2 separate regions of the Homo sapiens genome follow, and region 1 is linked to region 2. The links come from fine-mapping of genetic effects on gene expression. Tissue or cell type: lung. Region 2 holds a variant in brackets; the other region holds the start of a gene. All regions are shown on one strand. Distances are from middle to middle.

Region 1 (10,243 bases), 45 kb before region 2:
GAAAGGCAGCAGAAGCCAGTTGGGCAGTGGGTGCTGCTCCCCTGAGGTTGGCTCACCCATCCCCCAGCCCCCCACCCCAGGAATAGCTGTGTGACCTTCAGCAAGTTACTGAGTTGATCTGTGTCTCACGTAAGAGAACCAACTTAATTATAGTTCCGGCACAGTCAGGTTGCTGTCAGAATTAAATGTGTGAATTTGTATGAAGGGATCTGAATAGAGCCTGACTTATGGGAAGTGCTGTATTTCAGCGCACACTCTGAATAGCATAATCATTACTAAAAGAATTTTTTTTTTGAGACGGGGTCTCACTCTGTCTCCCAGGCTGGAGTGCGGTGGTGTGAACACGGCTCACTACAGCCTCAACCTTCCAGGCTCAGGTGATCCTCCCACATCAGCCTCCTAAACAGCTGGGACTACAGGTGCAGGCCACTGCACCAGGCTAATTTTCTGTGGGTTTTGTTGTTGTTATTGTTTGTAGAGATGGGTTTTGCTATGTTTCCCAGGCTGGTCTTGAACTCCTGGGCTCAAGTGATCTGCCCGCCTTGGCAGGACTACAGGTGTGAGCCATTGCACCCTGCCTACCCTGGCCCATTGACTATTATGAATTAAAGGCTATTGAAAAACAGCAGGTGCATCGCTGGCAAAAGTATACTTGTGTAACGAACTTGCACATTCTGCGCATGTATTTCAGAACTTAAAGTAAAAATAAAATAATAAAGTAGGCCGGGCGTGGTGGCTCACGCCTGTAATCCCAGCACTTTGGGAGGCCGAGGCAGGTGGATCACAAGGTCAGGAGATAGAGACCAGCCTGGCTAACATGGTGAAACCCTGTCTCTACTAAAAATACAAAATTTAGCCGGGTGTGGTGGCGGGCACCTGTAGTCCCAGCTACTTGGGAGGCTGAGGCAGGAGAATGGCGTGAACCCAGGAGGCGGAGCTTGCAGTGAGCTAAGATCATGCCACTGCACTCCAGACTGGGCGACACAGCAAGACTCTGTCTCCAAAAAATTAAAAAAAAAATAATAAAGTATTCAGGGATAAAGAGAGAAAAATAAATTTAGATTGTATACATATGTAAAATATATTTTAAAAGGTAAGCTTGTCTTTTTTATTCCTTAAAGGAGCAGATATTAAAAAAAAAAGAATAGAATAACTCATCTTTTTAGCCTCCACATATTTACTTGCTTCTTCCCAAGTTACTTGGTCTAATTCAGTATATAAGTAACTGACTCTCACTGCTTTTTCTGTGCCATGTAAAACTTGCATTGTATTAATTTGTGTGCTTTTCTCCTGTGGACCTGTCTTATGTCAACTTAATTCTCAGGCCCAGCCAAAAAAAAAATACCCTTAAAGGGAGCTTAGCTTGCCTCCATGACCCTCAATGGTGGCTGTAATCAAACCACATCTTCCAGGCAAACAATACCACATCCTATGGCCTTGCAATGGCATGGCCTCCCTCCAGCACAGCCTCTCTGGAGGAGGGGGAGGCAAGGGTGGTGAGATCTCAGGCCTCCCTCATGCTACCTCCTATTAGTTATATGACCCCTGGTGTCACCTCTCCCACCACACTGTAGGCTCCAGGGAGTAGGATTCACATGGGGTTCATTTGTCCTCCCTGCCTTCAGCAGACTCCAGGCACAGGTGTTCCCAGAGTAAAGGGCTCACTGTCTGCTTCCTGGGTGAATCATTCTCCCCGCAAACCCATGAGGTGAGTGCAGTCGTGGCTTCAGCTCACCGCCTGACAGGCTCCAGGCTGTAGCACAGGGAGGGCCCTGTGGACTCTGCTGAGGAACCATACGAGCTCCCAGAGGCCAAGTGCAGGACAGAGAATAGAGAAGCAGCTGCTCAGAGAACTCTAGCCCTGTAGAGGTGCAAATATGGCTGCTATTATACAGAAGGTGAGGCCAAAAATGCTGGAGACACTGCTCCTGAATCTCAGTTTTGCCACTTGTAAAACAGGGAAAACAACCTACTCTCATGTCCCCAGGTTGTTAGGAAAATCCACTACATGAAGATGTGCAGTCTCTGGCTGGGAGCAGGACACCAGCTGCCCAACAGCACAGGCTCAGGGCATGGCACTGTCTCCACTGTCCCCATCCCCAACCTGGAAGCTAGAGCCTCGCTGCCCTGCCACTTCTGGATGCAGGACAGAGAACCGGAACTGGGACTGTGGTCTCTCAGTAGAGGCTGTGAACAGCCATCTGTGGCCACACGGATTGAGACCTTTCCTGCTCACTCTTCAAACTGGGGCACCGGCTGGGTGCCCAACAGAAAGACAATTGGAAGAGTGGCAGGTAAACCAGGCTGTGGCCCTGCAGTGCCATCACCGTCCTCATTTGAATTCTGGCTCGTCTGTTCCTCTACGGCCCCTCCGCATGGCGCTCCACCCCAGTCTTCAGAAATTTCTGCCTCAAGCTCAGGGAGCTGGTACTGAGGTACAGGTAGGAGAAGGTGCAGCCTCTGCTGAGTGGAGGACATGTGCCCTGGGGATCCAGAGTCTAGAGTGACTGACACCAGCCCTGCAATTTGTCCTCCTAGACCTGTTAACAGAGCCTGCAGAAGTTTACACAGGGCTGCTGAAGATTTTTATCCCCTCATTTTACAGGAAGGAGCTGGGGCCATACCAGAGTCAGAGCTGGACCGGGAGCACGGCAGGGCCCAGCCATCCACAGCCTCCAATTTCAGTACTCTCTAACAACCTGAGAGCCTGAGCCTTCGGATCTTCTTGATTCCTACTTTGATAAAGAGAGGGATGGGGTTGGAAGGACCTGGCATAGAGATTGGACCAGTCCGGCATTGACAGAGCCAGGACCTGGGGTCCGGAACTGAGCTCAGCTCCAGGCTCATCTGAAGTCACCCTGACAGCCTGAGGATGGAGACCTTATTTCCATTAACAGGCATGGCGGTTGGCAGGGACTGGCCCCAGCTGAGCACGGTTTTCCAAGTACACAGCTGGGAATTAAGTCTTCTCTGCCGCCCTCCCCTGTAGTCTTGCCTGGATCCCCCCAGTCATCTACTCCCAGTACCAAAAACTCCTGTATTCTTGAAAATCCGTAGTACTGAGAGGTGACAGCTTGCTGGCAGTCCTCAACAGCCCTCGCTCGCTCTCGGCGCCTCCTCTGCCTGGGCTCCCACTTTGGCGGCACTTGAGGAGCCCTTCAGCCCACCGCTGCACTGTGGGAGCCCTTTTCTGGGCTGGCCAAGGCTGGAGCCCGCTCCCTCAGCTTGCACGGAGGTGTGGAGGGAGAGGCGCGAGCGGGAACCGGGGCTGCGCGCGCGGCACTTGCGGGCCAGCTGGAGTTCCGGGTGGGCGTGGGCTCGGCGGGCCCTGCACTCGGAGCAGCCGGCCGGCCCTGCCGGCCCCGGGCAATGAGGGGTTTAGCACCCGGGCCAGCGGCTGCGGAGGGTGTACTGGGTCCCCCAGCAGTGCCGGCCCACTGGCGCTGCGCTTGATTTCTCGCCGGGCCTTAGCTGCCTTCCCGACGGGCAGGGCTCGGGACCGCCATGCCTGAGCCTCTCACCCCCTCCGTGGGCTCCTGTGCAGCCGGAGCCTCCCCGACGAGCACCTCCCCCTGCTCCAGGGCGCCCAGTCCCATCGACCACCCAAGGGCTGAGGAGTGCGGGCGCACGGCGCGGGAGCACGGCGCGGGACTGGCAGGCAGCTCCACCTGCAACCCCGGTGCGGGATCCACTGGGTGACGACACCTGGGCTCCTGAGTCTGGTGGGGACGTGGAGAACCTTTATGTTTAGCTAAGGGATTGTAAATACACCAATTGGCACTGTGTATCTAGCTCAAGTTTTGTAAACACACCAATCAGCACCGTGTGTCTAGCTCAGGGTTTGTGAATGCACCAATTGACACTCTGTATCTAGCTAGTCTGGTGGGGCCTTGGAGAACCTTTGTGTCCACACTCTGTATCTAGCTAATCTGGTGGGGAAGTGGAGAACATTTGTGTCTAGCTCAGGGATTGTAAACCACCAATCAGCGCCCTGTCAAAACAGACCACTCCGCTCTACCAATCAGCAGGGTGTGGGTGGGGCCAGATAAGAGAATAAAAGCAGGCTGCCAGAGCCAGCAGTGGTAACACTGTGGAAGCTTCCTTCTTTCCCTCTGCAATAAATCTTGCTACTGCTCACTCTTTGGGTCCACACTGCCTTTATGAGCTGTAACACTCACCTTGAAGGTCTGCAGCTTCACTCTTGAAGCCAGCGAGACCACGAGCCCACCAGGAGGAAAGAACAACTCCAGACCCACTGCCTTAAGAGCTGTAACACTCACTGGGAAGGTCTGCAGCTTCACTCCTGAGCCAGTGAGACCACGAACCCACCAGAAGGAAGAAACTCCGAACACATCCGAACATCAGAAGGAACAAACTCCAGACACGCCGCCTTTAAGAACTGTAACACTCACCGCGAGGGTCCGAGGCTTCATTCTTGAAGGCAGTGAGACCAAGAACCCACCAATTCCGGACACAGTACCATGAAGGAATGAAAATACATAACAATGTGATGTATCATGTTTTATTTCCTAGACTAGTGACAAATGAAAGCTAAGTGTAGCAAGGGTGCAGGGACACAGGCACATTTGTGGACTAGGTGTGAGTGTAAGCTGGGTTCGATGGTCTTTTGGCCAACATAGTGAACCCCTGTGTCTACTAAAAATACAAAAATTAGCCAGGCGTGGTGGTGCAGGCCTGTAGTCCCAGCTACATGGGAGGCTGAGGTGGGAGTATCGCTTGAACCTGGGAGACGGAAGTTGCAGTGAGCCGGGATCACACCACCGCTCACCAATCTGAGCCACAGAGAGACTGTCTCAAAAAATAAACCACAAGGAAGGGAGGTAGGGGGAGGGGGAGGGAGGGAGGAAAGAGAAAGAGAGAAAGGAAGGAAAGAGAAAGCAGGAAGGACGGAAAGAAGACGAAAGAACGAAAGAAAACGAAAGAAAAAAGGAAAGAAGAGAGAAGGAGAGAACAGAAGGGGCAGGTGCCCCTGGGAAGGGGAGAAGATCAAGACGCGCCTGGAAAGCGGACTCTGAACCTCAAGACCCTGTTCACAGCCAAGCGCGCGACCCCGGGAGGCGTCAACTCCCCAAGTGCCTCCCTCAACTCATTTCCCCCAAGTTTCGGTGCCTGTCCTGGCGCGGACAGGACCCAGAAACAAACCACAGCCCGGGGCGCAGCCGCCAGGGCGAAGGTTAGTTCCGGTCCCTTCCCCTCCCCTCCCCACTTGGACGCGCTTGCGGAGGATTGCGTTGACGAGACTCTTATTTATTGTCACCAACCTGTGGTGGAATTTGCAGTTGCACATTGGATCTGATTCGCCCCGCCCCGAATGACGCCTGCCCGGAGGCAGTGAAAGTACAGCCGCGCCGCCCCAAGTCAGCCTGGACACATAAATCAGCACGCGGCCGGAGAACCCCGCAATCTCTGCGCCCACAAAATACACCGACGATGCCCGATCTACTTTAAGGGCTGAAACCCACGGGCCTGAGAGACTATAAGAGCGTTCCCTACCGCCATGGAACAACGGGGACAGAACGCCCCGGCCGCTTCGGGGGCCCGGAAAAGGCACGGCCCAGGACCCAGGGAGGCGCGGGGAGCCAGGCCTGGGCCCCGGGTCCCCAAGACCCTTGTGCTCGTTGTCGCCGCGGTCCTGCTGTTGGTGAGTCCCCGCCGCGGTCCCTGGCTGGGGAAGAGCGTGCCTGGCGCCTGGAGAGGGCAGGGAGAGAGGGGGACACGGCGGGGGTGCGTGGCCCGGGTCGCCTGCGGCCGGGCATGTCCGGGCAAGACGCACCAGTCGTCGGAGTCGGGGGAAGAGATGGGTCCCCGGGTTGGGCAGGAGCGACCTGGGCCGCCAGGGAACAGAGCGCGCGCTCCACTTGGTGTAAATTCCCGAATCCAGTGGGGGAGGGCGACAAGGAGGGAATTCCCGAGTAAGCTGCGTGAAGCCACGGAGAGGTCGTCGGACTTTGATTTTGTTTTCTTTCCTTACTTTCTGTTTCTTTCTCTTTTTCTCTTTCTTCCTTTCTTTCCCTCCCTTCCTTCCTCGCTCAGTTCCTGCCTTAATTTCTTTTTCTTTTGCGCCTTCGAATGAATTCCTAAAGGCGCTCATTGCAGATCGCTTTGAACCTGCGGCCGGCGAAGAACTCCCCTGTGGTCGCTGCGGCCCAGTGGTTCCGTTCCGTGCGCGGGAGTCGTCGCGGGCGCAGCTGGAGAGGCCCCTTCCCCTCCTTAGCGGCTGCGCCCCTACGCGTGCGGGGCCGCTCATCGCCAATGCCATTGTTTGGGGTTCCTTGGGAAAACGAGATTTAGGAGAAGGGAGTTGTGGCACTTGGGGCCTGACCTGCTTGATAATAGCAGCTGCATTTTGGCCTGGGAAGAGCCTTTCTTGCCACCTCTTGGCAAGTATCCGTGATAATGGGGAAGGGACAAAGAGTCGGCTTTGTAGGGAACAGCATGGTGTGCTCAGCGCCTGGAACTGCGCTTGGGGCCAGGAGAGGTTCTGAATCATCACATTTTACAGAGGAAGAGACCGCAGCTCAGAGTGGGGAAGTGTGTGGGCCTAGACCTAACTCAAGACTGTACAGAGGGGCTGGAAGGGAGAGGAGGAACAGTGAAAGGAAGGTCAAGAGAATGCTGGTGTTGACCTAGAAGAATGTCAGTGTGAAGCATTGGAGTTTCATGGGATATTGTTACACACCTCATGTTTTCACTGTTTCCGCCCCACACCACAGTATGTCCTTGGTCTCACCTCTGAGTGGAGGGAGGACCTAACTGTCCTAGTGAGGAGAGTGTACAGGGGCCTCTGCCTCCCCCTCCTGCTGTGGTTTCTGTGGGCCTAGGTCCCCAGGGCATCTTGCCTCTCTTTGGGTGGTGGATCTTTGGTCTCTGGCTGCTTTTAAAGATTTTTCTTAGCACTGGTTTGCAGTGATTTGGTTTGTTTGCTCTGTTGTGGGGTTTTTTTTTTATCTCTATAAAGAATTTTTTGGATTTTTGGCTTTAGACTTTCATGTTCTTTCTACTTGGAAGATTTTTCTGTAAAGAAAGCCACAACTGGGTTGTGTTGAATTTCTTGGATTTGGGGTTTTAGAGTTTATGTTCTCCTTGGAGACTTTTCTGTAAAGAAAGCCACAACAGCCGGGTCTGGTAGCTCATGCCTGTAATCCCAGCACTTTGGGAGGCCGAGGCGGGCAGATCACATGAGGTCAGGGATTCGAGACCAGCCTGACCAACATGGTGAAACCCCGTCTCTACTAAAAATACAAAATTAGCTGGGTGTGGTGGTGGGCACCTGCAATCCCAGCTACTTGGGAGGTTGAGGCAGGAGAATCACTTGAACCTGGGAGGCAGAAGTTGCAGTGAGCAGAGATGGCGCCACTGCACTCCAGCCTGGGAGACAAGAGCAAGACTCCAACTCAAAAAAAAGAAAGAAAGAAAGCCACAACAGAGTTATGTTGAATTTCTTGGATTTGGGGTTTTAGAGTTTATGTTTTTGTTTGTTTGTTTGTTTGTTTTGAGATGGAGTCTTGCCTCTGTCGCCTAGGCTGGAGTGCAGTGGTGGGATCTCAGCTCACTGCAACCTCTGCCTCCTGGGTTCACGCCATTCTCCTGCCTCAGCATCCCGTGTAGCTGGGACTACAGGCATGCACCACCACGCCCAGCGAACTTTTTGTATTTTTAGTAGAGACGGGGTTTCACCGTGTTAGCCAGGATGGTCTGGCTCGTGATCTGCCCGCCTCAGCCTCCCAAAATGCTGGGATTACAGGGGTGAGCCACCACGCCCAGCCGAGTTTATGTTCTACTTGGAAGATTTTCAGCCATTATTTCTTCAAATACTCTGTCTCTTCTGGTGACTGAGATCTTATTATATTTACGTTAGAATGTTAGATTTTGTATCAGAGCTAACTTAGTATCTGTTCTTTTTTTTCCCCCATCATTTTCTATGTTTCACTTTGGACATTTCCCTGTGAGGGCTCTTCAAGTTCATTGATCTGCTTCTGCAGAATCTAACCTGCTGTTAATCTCATCTACTGTATATCAGATATATATTTTTTGAACTTTAGAAGTTCTCTTTTGGCATTTTTAATATCTTCCATCTATTTCCTGGTCATCTTTGTGTTTTTCTTTTTTGAGACAGGGTCTTACTCTGTCACCCAGGCTGGAGTGCAGTGGCACAGTCAGAGTTCACTGCAGCCTCAACCTCTTGGGCTCAAGTGATCCTCCCACCTCGGCCTCCCAAGTAGCTGGGACCACAGGCACTTGCAACCACACCTGGCTAATTTTTGTATTTTTAGTAGAGACGGGGTTTCACCATGTTGCCCAGGCTGGTCTCAAACTCCTGCGCTCAAGGAATCCTCCCACCTTGTCCTCCCAAAGTATTGGGATTACAGGCCTGAGCCACCGTGCGCAACCTATGATTTTGGTGGTGGTGTTTTTTGTTTTTCTGTTTTTTAAATATTCTTGAGTATATTTGTAAGCTTTAGATGACCTGTTTTAAGTTATTTAATCTATCAACACCATTATATCTGTTATTACGGCCACTGTTTCTGTTGATTACATTTTTTTTCCTGCCCATAGGGACTTTTTTTTTCATGCATAGTAATTTCTTATTGCTTGACATTGTGAATTTTGCTTTCTTGGGTACCGAACATCACTGTGTTCTTTCAAAGTCTATTGGGCATTATTCTGGTCACAGAAAACTGAGGATCAGTTTGCTCCTCTGATACTAGCTTTTATCTACATATAACTATATACCTTGTGTTCAGTTGCCTTATTCAGGGGCTCATTTAGTTAACTACTAAAGTTATAGTGGTTGACTTCTGATGGTAACTCGCCAGCACCCTGGCATGCGTTCTGTCCACTGTGGGAAGGGGAACATGCAGATCTCCCAGCCCTGAGTGGTCCACAATCTAGTCTCTCCTTCCCTGGGTGGCTTCTTCTCAGGCACCTAGAGTCAGTCTCAGCAGACACTGGACATGTCTTCTGCAAGGATCCAGAGTCCTCCAGGCAGCTGCTTCTCCCAGTCTCTGCCCTGCACTTGGCCTCTGGGAGTTCCTGCCTGTGGTTCTCAACAGAGACTACAGAGCTCTACAGGGTCCTCTGCCCCTGCTGTAGCTGGAGGCTGTCCTTACGCAGTGAGCTGAGGCCACAGCTAGTCTCACTGCATGTGCTTGGCGGCGGGGACAGGAGTGATTCATTCATCAGGTAGAGGAGGAACCCTTTACTCTGGGAAAATCTGTGCCTGGGTTGGGGAAGGACAAATGAGCCCTGTGTGAATACTGACTACTCCCTGGAGCCCACAGTCTGGTGGAGCAGGTGACAGCAGGGACCTAAATAACTATCAGGAAGCATGAGGTCCCACCACTGTCACCTCCCCCACCTCCAGAGTGGCTGTGCTGGCTCCAGAGATGTCATCCCTCCATATTTGACTGACAGAGGGAGGCTGTGCAGTCCCAAGGCTCCAGGTCATGGTAGTTTGGCCAGGATAATATGGTTTGCTTAAAATCAACATTGAGGGTAATGATCGTACTAATCAGAGCATGTGTTTAAAGTTCTGTGTTTTAAGCACTTTCCATACATATTAACACTTTCAGTTCACACAACAACCTATGCAGGAACTGTGATTATCCTGGGCAGTTTTAAGGATGTGGGTGACTCAGAGAGGAAAGAAGAGGTTACTCGGGTTAATTTTTGACGAGAAATATTAGCAGGTTTTATGCTCAAACTTGGTGTAAAGCAAGGAGCCTGAATCACAGGTGGGTGAGTCACAAGACAGGGAAACCCCGCCAATGGCTCATGTCCGGGAGGAGGCAGGGTCCCTAGAATTCAATGGGACAAGAACTGAAATAAGCCAAACCCCTGACCTCCCTTCTTCTTGTTTTCCTTCTCTCTCTTAACCATGCCCATGGACACCCCCATGAGCCCATTTCTGTGGCCCAACACAGCTGTGCATCTCTGGCCACACGCCCATTCTCCCTCAATCAGAGAGGCCCACGGACGGCACAGCCTCGTCCTGCACAGCAGAAAGAGTGAATGGTGATGAATGGATCTATATTATTTCAACTCTCCTACATTTTGTAATCATATTACAATATTAATTCAGCAGTACCTCTCTTGTTTTTACTCCCCTCCCCCATTACACTGGATTCCTGTCTGTCTGGGATTCTGTCTGTGTGCACTCTTTCCTCTATGTCCACTACTGTCCCTGCCACCGATGGCATTTGTCACCTCTGCCTGGGCAGCC
Region 2 (10,017 bases):
CAGGCATATATTCATCTTTATACCAATTCAGCAATAAAATGTATTTTTTAATATTTTTATGCATGCAGGGGCCCATAAAGACAAAAGTGCCCATGGCCCACAAAAGGCATAATAAGGCCATGGGTGGAGCTCCTTCAAGTTCCCATGAGGACCTGAGCCCACCCAGCCGGCCTCACCCCTGGCCCCTGATCCCTCAGTAAGACCTGTCTTTTCCCTATTTGGGTTTTAGGGGCCAAGAGTAATTTGCTCTTCTCTGGCCCCCCTAGTATTTGCTGTGATTGGGGGAAATGGGCAGACAGCTGGGGACAAGAGCTCACTTTTGTGGTTGACTGGAAGACCGGACTCATCTTGTGGCCACACGGGCTTGTGACCTTCCCCTGGAGTGTGATTGCTCCTAACGCAGGCCTCCCCTGCAGCCCAGGGAAGCTCAGTGTGTGCCCAGCACAGAAGGCTCCTGGAACTGCAGCTCTGACCCCAGAGCAGGGAGGCCGAGGGGCTGAAGTGCGCATGCTCAGACCCTTCCCCAGCCTCAAGAAGGGAGCACAGGGGGACCCACTGCTGACACGAGGAGACTGTCCTTCCCCTGACACCTTCTCAGGGACACTGGGGAGGGAGGGTGGCTCCTCTTTCATCCCACCTGGCCAGCTTTCCATCAAGAGTCCCCCCTCTCCCTCTGTGTGTGTACCCAGGTGTCCCAGAGGGATGGTCAAGGTCGGTGATTGTACACCCTGGAGTGACATCGAATGTGTCCACAAAGAATCAGGTACAAAGCACAGTGGGGAAGTCCCAGCTGTGGAGGAGACGGTGACCTCCAGCCCAGGGACTCCTGCCTCTCCCTGTTCTCTCTCAGGCATCATCATAGGAGTCACAGTTGCAGCCGTAGTCTTGATTGTGGCTGTGTTTGTTTGCAAGTCTTTACTGTGGAAGAAAGTCCTTCCTTACCTGAAAGGCATCTGCTCAGGTAGGTGCTGGCTGAGGGCGGGGGCACAGGGCACTCTCTGCCCTGCCCCCTCCCACCCTATTCCCACAGACAGAAACGCCTGCCCCTGCCCCAAGTCTAAGTGCCTCCAGCCTGGCTCTATCCTCCTCCTCGTGGTCACCCCCATCCCCACATCCCGTGCACCCCCCAGGACCCTGGTCTCTTCAGTCCCTCTCCCAGGTCTGGGGGTCCCCATATCTCCCAGCCAAGTCCAGGAGGGCAGGGCCAGTTCCTCCCATCTTCAGGCCCAGCCAGGCAGGGGGCAGTCGGCTCCTCAACTGGGTGACAAGGGTGAGGATGAGAAGTGGTCGTGGGATTTTTTCAGCCTTGGTCAGAGCAGAACCAGAGATTTTCCAAGTGTTTGTTTTTACTCTAGTTCCCCTTCTCATCCCCCTTCCTCAGGGTGTCTCTGAGTTGTAAGGCCCCATTCTGTCCCCAGCCCCAGGGCTCCTTGTCCAGTGTCCCAGCCCCCAGCCCAGCCCTGCGCCCCACTGTCCTCTGGGAGGGGGGTGCTTCATGGGCCCCTCCCTTCCTGCTAAGGAGACTGCTTCTTTTTTAGGTGGTGGTGGGGACCCTGAGCGTGTGGACAGAGTGAGTTGATTTCTCCAGGAGCTGGGGGCTCAGGGGTTCAGGAACTGCTTCCTGGGACAGCAGAACCTGGGTGGGTGGGTCCCCATTGTCCTCATGGCTGCCCTGACTCTCTGAAGTGGCCTGGGTGCTCTGGGCTGACTGTGGGGGACACATGGCCATTTTGAGCACCACATAGGCTGGTGAGCCCTGCTGCAGCCCAGGTGACATCCTCACCCCACAGCCTGCACCCTAGGGATGGGGTGTCTGCCTGAGCACAGCACTGGGGGCCTGGCCCCAGCAGCGGGTCCTGGATGTGCTGAGTCTGGGCTGCCTGCGGTGACCTCACTGAGAGGGGGTGGGGATGTCAGGTGCAGCTGCATACTGAGGACCCTGCAGCGAGCCCTAGGTGTGGACTCCTGAGTCGGCTTTTTGCCTTCCCAATGTCTTTTTCCAGAGCTCACAACGACCTGGGGCTGAGGACAATGTCCTCAATGAGATCGTGAGTATCTTGCAGCCCACCCAGGTCCCTGAGCAGGAAATGGAAGTCCAGGAGCCAGCAGAGCCAACAGGTGTCAACATGTTGTCCCCCGGGGAGTCAGAGCATCTGCTGGTGAGTGGGGGACAGATCATTTTGTTTCCTGGCATGCTGCTCACCTGGGATTTCGTAGACAGTGGGAGAGGGCAGTGCCTTAGCTCTCCTGGCCCAGGGGAAATGGAACCTGAAGGAGCCAGGGGACTGCAGGGGATGGAGCAGCTGCACTGAGGTGGTGACCGTGCCAGTCTGCAGGACATCTGCTTCTTACTCCCTGTCCTGTCCTTGCTGTGTCCCCCGAGCCTGGAGCTCCACAGGCATAGAGTGGGGGTCACAGGGTTCATTGATGAGTGAATAAGGCTGCACAGTCTCCATCGTATGCTCCTAACAGAAGTCAGTGAGCCCTTGCTTGTAACAGCAGGAGTTTTAAATTTACTCTGAAATTGTTATTACATTGAACATATTTCAAAGTTCGTAGGGCAGCTTCCAAAAAGTAGGATTCCAAGTCGATGCACAAAGGGCTTTTGTATTGGACACACGCACACAATCAGTTCATATCAATCCATCAGTTTTGATGTGATATTGAGTAGGCAGGAAATCTGTATATACATTTATTGTTCATTGCTCGTAAGCACTGAAAGTCCTTCCCTCGAACATAAGATGAGACTATCCAGTTTCCTGCAGTGTTTTATTTTTAATGATTTGATTTTTAACATACAGCAATATAATCTAAACAGAATTGAATTTTCGATTCAATATAAGCTGAGAAACTCCCTGAATTATTCTGAGTCTCTGTTTCCTTCTTCCAAGCCCATTTAGCAACCAATTCTTCCTTTTTCCCTTGCCTTTGCCCTTTTGCCACCTCCTTTGCTACATGTCAAATGTTTACTTTTTTCTCTCTTCCTCTTCACTCTTTTTTAAAAAAACAAACAAACAAAAAAAAACTAGATCTTATCCTTGAAAATGTCAAATGTTTATATGGGCAGAGATCTCTTCCACCTAGACTGTTTCTGTTTCTTCCTTGCATCTGTACCACTTTCTTTTTAAATAAAGAGAAGAGATTTTAAAAGGAAACAAATGAACAATGCCAATACTTCCTCCATGCTTATTAATGACTTTGAAGATTTTTTTTTTTGAGACAGGATCTTGCTCTATCACCTGGGCTGGAGTGCAGTGGCACCATCTTGGCTCATTGCAACCCCTGCCTCCTGGGCTCATGTCATCCTCTCACCTCAGCTTCCTGAGTAGCTGGAACTATAGGCATGTGCCACCGTGCCCAGCTAAGTTTTGTATTTTTTGTAGAGACGAGGTTTGGTCATGTTGCCTAGGCTGGTCTCGAACTCCTGAACTCAGGCAATCCACCCTCCTTGGCCTCCCAAAATGCTGGGATTACAAGCATGAGCCACCATGCCTGGCCTGATCATTTTTTGAAAGCAGGTCACCCATAGCCACACATCCACCAGAGTATGAAAAAACTTGATCATACCAAGAGCCTTCTTTACTCTTTCCCAGCCTTTTGGCCCTTCTTATTTCAGGTAACTACAGTGGATAATTTCTTGTGATTCTTTGCTAAACTCTTTATGCATATACCATCTAGGTACATAAATGCATATGTATTTATGTGGTATTGACATGAAAAGGATTATATCATGTACAACACCAAACAAAACTGTCTAATATGTTTTAATATCTTAGACAGCAAATATGTTTTCAAAATTATTTTTACACATCTTATAATTTAGAATTAGATAAAATTTAGAATTATAAGATTTTCTCTAGTACCCCTCCCGCCCACATAGTCACTAGACTTTACAAATATTAATTTAAATTAATACATGGTTCTAGGAATGATTGACATCCTTTCAACATTCAATTTTATTATCAAAGAAGATAATATTTCAAGTCAAGTGTTCTATTATGACTCAATCGAGATTTGGGAGTTTATTTCAGATAAATTTTTCCTATTCCTCATCAAAGCTGTTTCTTTGCATTTTGGGTCTTCTTGTAAGTCCATTTTCTAATTTATTATGTCTGCTGCTACTTTTCTTTTCTTTCTTTCTGAGATGGGTCTCACTCTTGTCACCCAGGCTGGAGTGCAGTGGTACAATCATGGCTCACTGCAGCCTTGACCTTCTAAGGCCAAGTAAGCTCGGACTTACCGGCTTCTGAGTAGCTCGGACGACAGTTTTGTGCCACTACACCCAGCTTATTTTATTTTATTTTATTTTATTTTTAGAAACAGGATCTCGCTATGTCGCCTAGGCTGGTCTCAAACTCCTGGGCTCAAGCAGTCTTCACACCTCAGCCTCCCAGAGTGCTGGGATTACAGGTGTGAGCCACCATGCCTGGCCTCTGCTATGTGGTTTAACATTCATCAGGGCTAGGTGCAGTGGCTCACGCCTGTAATCCCAGCACTTTGGGAGGCCGAGGCGGATGGATCATCTGAGGTAAGGAGTTTGAGACTAGCCTGGCCAACATGGTGAAACCCTGTCTCTACTAAAAATATAAAAATACGATAAAATAATTAGCTGGGCATGGTGGTGCACACCTGTAATCCCAGCTACTTGGGAGGCTGAGGCAGGAGAATCTCTTGAACCCAGAGGTGGAGGTTGCAGTGAGCCAAGATCGCACTATTGCACTCCAGCCTGGGAGACGGAGTGAGACTCTGTCTCGAAAAAAAAAAAAATCATCAAGACATATTCACTTTTGAGTATTACAAATTAAACCTTGGGGTTTTAAAAATATACACTCCTAATCTAAAATATTGACTGCTGTATCGGCCTCCTTCCGAGAGTCTTGCCCCTTTGTCTCCTGTCTTGTTGCCAGACCTTTCAGAACAATGTTCTGGAAGTGACGTGCTGCAGGTCTCAGAGCTGGCTGGTGGTCGGGGTCAGTACTGGACTGTAGGACTCCTGGCTCTGACCAGGACATTCCCCACTATGTGTTACAGGAACCGGCAGAAGCTGAAAGGTCTCAGAGGAGGAGGCTGCTGGTTCCAGCAAATGAAGGTGATCCCACTGAGAGTAAGTGTTTTGCTCCTGGAGATGCAGCAGGAATGGAGGGAATAGGGACAGGGTCCTAACTGCTGTCCCCAGAGGTCAGAGGGCTCTTCCAGAGTATTCCATGCTGGAAGCCGTGGGTCCTGTGCTATAGACCATCTGGACCCTAAACTGTCTTCTCCCATCTCTTCTCCCCACTCTACCTCATCCTCTCTGCACCCTATCATTGACCCTAATGACTCTGTCCGTCCCCTCATCCTCTCTCCTCCTTTGTTCAGGGCCTGATGTAGCCCCCGCCTGCCCCTGAGGACCTCCTGAGGGGCTGGCCTGTCCTGCACAGCACCACTAACCCCAGTGGGCTAAGGAGCTCTTGACCTGTGCCTCAGCCCAATTTGCAGAGCTGTTGTGTAAACTACATACGAATGCCAAAGACTTAATGCAAAAAAGAGTGGAAAATATTTCACTCATAATTTTTGTATATTGATTGTATATTAAATTATATTTTAAATATATTCAGTACCATACATTAAAATGAATGTCACTTGTTTCTGATGTTCTTTAAAATAAGGCTGTTGGAAAACATAGCCTCGTGTTCCTGACCCTGTCTATCTCTGAGGACGGCGAGGTGCATCATGTTGCACACACGTCTCATTTAATCCCTCATCGTCCCGAGATCTGGGCAGCATTGCTCGGTCTTTGGGTTCACTTCTTGCTCAGAGTCTGTTTGCCTCCACCTAGCTCTGCCCCAGCCCCAGGAAGTGAGGCCGAGCTGGGTGAAAACAGAGGTCCCCTGTCCCAGGCCCTGTGCTTTCCACAGATGCAGAAGTGGCCGCCCTGGGACCTGCTCCCATGACAAGCGCAGCCCAGGCAGCCTCCTCCCTCCTCTAAGCTCCCGCTGCAGCCACTGTCTCTCCCTCCCTCGGACTCTCACGCACTTTACTTTCTGCCTCTGTAACGTCCATCCATACTCCCCTGGTGGGTTCTCAGCCCTGTATGAGGGCTGATTCTCTGACGACTTTGACTCCCCGCAGTGCCTTGCGTGTGGGGGAGGCCAGGCAGTGTGGGCGCGCTCTCTGTGGATGGGAAGCGGGTGGGCACTGGAGCGGCAGGTTTGCCCGCACACGGGGCTCTCCAGGTTCCCCGCCTTGGGTTCTGGGCCTGATGTGGAATCCTCTGCCCTTTCTGAGTCCCAACTCACCTGGCTGTCTCTGTGGCTTTCTCCACCAGCTCTGAGACAGTGCTTCGATGACTTTGCAGACTTGGTGCCCTTTGACTCCTGGGAGCCGCTCATGAGGAAGTTGGGCCTCATGGACAATGAGATAAAGGTGGCTAAAGCTGAGGCAGCGGGCCACAGGGACACCTTGTACACGATGCTGATAAAGTGGGTCAACAAAACCGGGCGAGATGCCTCTGTCCACACCCTGCTGGATGCCTTGGAGACGCTGGGAGAGAGACTTGCCAAGCAGAAGATTGAGGACCACTTGTTGAGCTCTGGAAAGTTCATGTATCTAGAAGGTAATGCAGACTCTGCCATGTCCTAAGTGTGATTCTCTTCAGGAAGTCAGACCTTCCCTGGTTTACCTTTTTTCTGGAAAAAGCCCAACTGGACTCCAGTCAGTAGGAAAGTGCCACAATTGTCACATGACCGGTACTGGAAGAAACTCTCCCATCCAACATCACCCAGTGGATGGAACATCCTGTAACTTTTCACTGCACTTGGCATTATTTTTATAAGCTGAATGTGATAATAAGGACACTATGGAAATGTCTGGATCATTCCGTTTGTGCGTACTTTGAGATTTGGTTTGGGATGTCATTGTTTTCACAGCACTTTTTTATCCTAATGTAAATGCTTTATTTATTTATTTGGGCTACATTGTAAGATCCATCTACACAGTCGTTGTCCGACTTCACTTGATACTATATGATATGAACCTTTTTTGGGTGGGGGGTGCGGGGCAGTTCACTCTGTCTCCCAGGCTGGAGTGCA[A/G]TGGTGCAATCTTGGCTCACTATAGCCTTGACCTCTCAGGCTCAAGCGATTCTCCCACCTCAGCCATCCAAATAGCTGGGACCACAGGTGTGCACCACCACGCCCGGCTAATTTTTTGTATTTTGTCTAGATATAGGGGCTCTCTATGTTGCTCAGGGTGGTCTCGAATTCCTGGACTCAAGCAGTCTGCCCACCTCAGACTCCCAAAGCGGTGGAATTAGAGGCGTGAGCCCCCATGCTTGGCCTTACCTTTCTACTTTTATAATTCTGTATGTTATTATTTTATGAACATGAAGAAACTTTAGTAAATGTACTTGTTTACATAGTTATGTGAATAGATTAGATAAACATAAAAGGAGGAGACATACAATGGGGGAAGAAGAAGAAGTCCCCTGTAAGATGTCACTGTCTGGGTTCCAGCCCTCCCTCAGATGTACTTTGGCTTCAATGATTGGCAACTTCTACAGGGGCCAGTCTTTTGAACTGGACAACCTTACAAGTATATGAGTATTATTTATAGGTAGTTGTTTACATATGAGTCGGGACCAAAGAGAACTGGATCCACGTGAAGTCCTGTGTGTGGCTGGTCCCTACCTGGGCAGTCTCATTTGCACCCATAGCCCCCATCTATGGACAGGCTGGGACAGAGGCAGATGGGTTAGATCACACATAACAATAGGGTCTATGTCATATCCCAAGTGAACTTGAGCCCTGTTTGGGCTCAGGAGATAGAAGACAAAATCTGTCTCCCACGTCTGCCATGGCATCAAGGGGGAAGAGTAGATGGTGCTTGAGAATGGTGTGAAATGGTTGCCATCTCAGGAGTAGATGGCCCGGCTCACTTCTGGTTATCTGTCACCCTGAGCCCATGAGCTGCCTTTTAGGGTACAGATTGCCTACTTGAGGACCTTGGCCGCTCTGTAAGCATCTGACTCATCTCAGAAATGTCAATTCTTAAACACTGTGGCAACAGGACCTAGAATGGCTGACGCATTAAGGTTTTCTTCTTGTGTCCTGTTCTATTATTGTTTTAAGACCTCAGTAACCATTTCAGCCTCTTTCCAGCAAACCCTTCTCCATAGTATTTCAGTCATGGAAGGATCATTTATGCAGGTAGTCATTCCAGGAGTTTTTGGTCTTTTCTGTCTCAAGGCATTGTGTGTTTTGTTCCGGGACTGGTTTGGGTGGGACAAAGTTAGAATTGCCTGAAGATCACACATTCAGACTGTTGTGTCTGTGGAGTTTTAGGAGTGGGGGGTGACCTTTCTGGTCTTTGCACTTCCATCCTCTCCCACTTCCATCTGGCATCCCACGCGTTGTCCCCTGCACTTCTGGAAGGCACAGGGTGCTGCTGCCTCCTGGTCTTTGCCTTTGCTGGGCCTTCTGTGCAGGACGCTCAGCCTCAGGGCTCAGAAGGTGCCAGTCCGGTCCCAGGTCCCTTGTCCCTTCCACAGAGGCCTTCCTAGAAGATGCATCTAGAGTGTCAGCCTTATCAGTGTTTAAGATTTTTCTTTTATTTTTAATTTTTTTGAGACAGAATCTCACTCTCTCGCCCAGGCTGGAGTGCAACGGTACGATCTTGGCTCAGTGCAACCTCCGCCTCCTGGGTTCAAGCGATTCTCGTGCCTCAGCCTCCGGAGTAGCTGGGATTGCAGGCACCCGCCACCACGCCTGGCTAATTTTTGTATTTTTAGTAGAGACGGGGTTTCACCATGTTGGTCAGGCTGGTCTCGAACTCCTGACCTCAGGTGATCCACCTTGGCCTCCGAAAGTGCTGGGATTACAGGCGTGAGCCACCAGCCAGGCCAAGCTATTCTTTTAAAGTAAGCTTCCTGACGACATGAAATAATTGGGGGTTTTGTTGTTTAGTTACATTAGGCTTTGCTATATCCCCAGGCCAAATAGCATGTGACACAGGACAGCCATAGTATAGTGTGTCACTCGTGGTTGGTGTCCTTTCATGCTTCTGCCCTGTCAAAGGTCCCTATTTGAAATGTGTTATAATACAAACAAGGAAGCACATTGTGTACAAAATACTTATGTATTTATGAATCCATGACCAAATTAAATATGAAACCTTATATAAAAAGAGGTGTGGTTTTTGTCTCCCGCCCCCCAACCTCCCCTCCTCCTGTGAATCAGCTCTGAGTGACAGGAAACCAGGGCTGTGCTCCTGCTGGGACTCCTTCCTTCCTCCCTCCCCTCTGTTTTCAGGCTTGGCCTCCTGGGGGTGTTTCCTGAATCCGACTCCCCAGAGTTTAAAGAGCTAGGTTCCTGGGGACTGGGATTCATACCTCCTTCCCCTCTCTCTCCTGCCTGCTCCTCCCTCTGGGGACAGGGACACCAATGTTGGCCTGGCTCACCCACAGCCTCCCAGGAGAGTTCTCTGGGCTGCCGGGTTGCATCTGGTTCCGACAGCTCTCGGGGAATGGGCGGTGGGTCCCTGAAGTTGGGGGGCCGGCCCTGTTTCTCAGGGAATCCCGTGGTCACTCTCCTATGGCTTCCTACAGCCCTGGGTCGACCTTCACTTTCTCTGCCCCGGCCTTCCCTGCATCCCCACCAGGGTACCCAGGTTGCTCAGCGCTTCAGGCACCTAGGAGACCTATTTCCCGTTCCCCTTGCCCTGGAGGACCCGCTCTCCCTTTCGTCCACAGCTTCCGGGAGGCCCAGGTGTGCCCCCACGCTGTCCATCTTCCCTAGAAGTGGAGGTGCTCCGGGTTCCCCCTTCGTCCCCCCAGCCCTGCCCATGGGCTTCTGGGCCTCACTTGGAGCCCTGGGCTGCGCTGAGCTGCAGGGAGGCCGAGCAGCCTGTAGAGGGCAGCATACGCGTGGCTTTCCAGCCAGCCGCCCTGGAGGCCGTGGAGGGGAGGCAGCCACAGTCCTGGAGGGGCCTGGGCCTGGACAACATGGCCGCCCCCAGGGTTAGAGCCGCTTGTCCTCCAGCCGC

The links. PIP is the estimated chance that this variant, and not a neighbour inherited with it, causes the effect.
Region 1: it holds the start of TNFRSF10B, and the variant in region 2 is fine-mapped to the expression of TNFRSF10B in lung (TOPMed, PIP 0.99). The same link has a PIP of 0.9 or more in fibroblasts and whole blood.

Annotation. Positions count from the first base shown.
Region 1 is chr8:23,064,170-23,074,412 of GRCh38, reverse strand. It overlaps TNFRSF10B (TNF receptor superfamily member 10b), which reads left to right and starts at 5,382. Exons shown (of 9, transcript NM_003842.5): 1 at 5,382-5,662. The coding sequence starts at 5,519. It also overlaps the pseudogene TNFRSF10B-AS1. RefSeq lists enhancers at 3,062-3,561, 3,883-4,177, 4,959-5,128, 5,149-5,198, 5,739-5,998 and 1 more, a cis regulatory region at 5,392-5,397 and promoters at 4,852-5,522, 4,290-8,003.
Region 2 is chr8:23,019,275-23,029,291 of GRCh38, reverse strand. It overlaps RHOBTB2 (Rho related BTB domain containing 2), which reads right to left. Exons shown (of 10, transcript NM_015178.3): 10 at 9,093-10,017. It overlaps TNFRSF10B (TNF receptor superfamily member 10b), which reads left to right. Exons shown (of 9, transcript NM_003842.5): 5 at 690-961; 6 at 1,539-1,570; 7 at 2,004-2,159; 8 at 5,032-5,104; 9 at 6,308-9,159. The coding sequence ends at 6,621. Among named protein-coding and RNA genes, the nearest start is that of RHOBTB2-AS1, 24 kb to the right of the region's middle. RefSeq lists enhancers at 46-546, 547-1,047, 9,235-9,394, 9,190-9,752, 9,753-10,017. The variant A/G (reference allele first, on the strand shown) is at 7,071.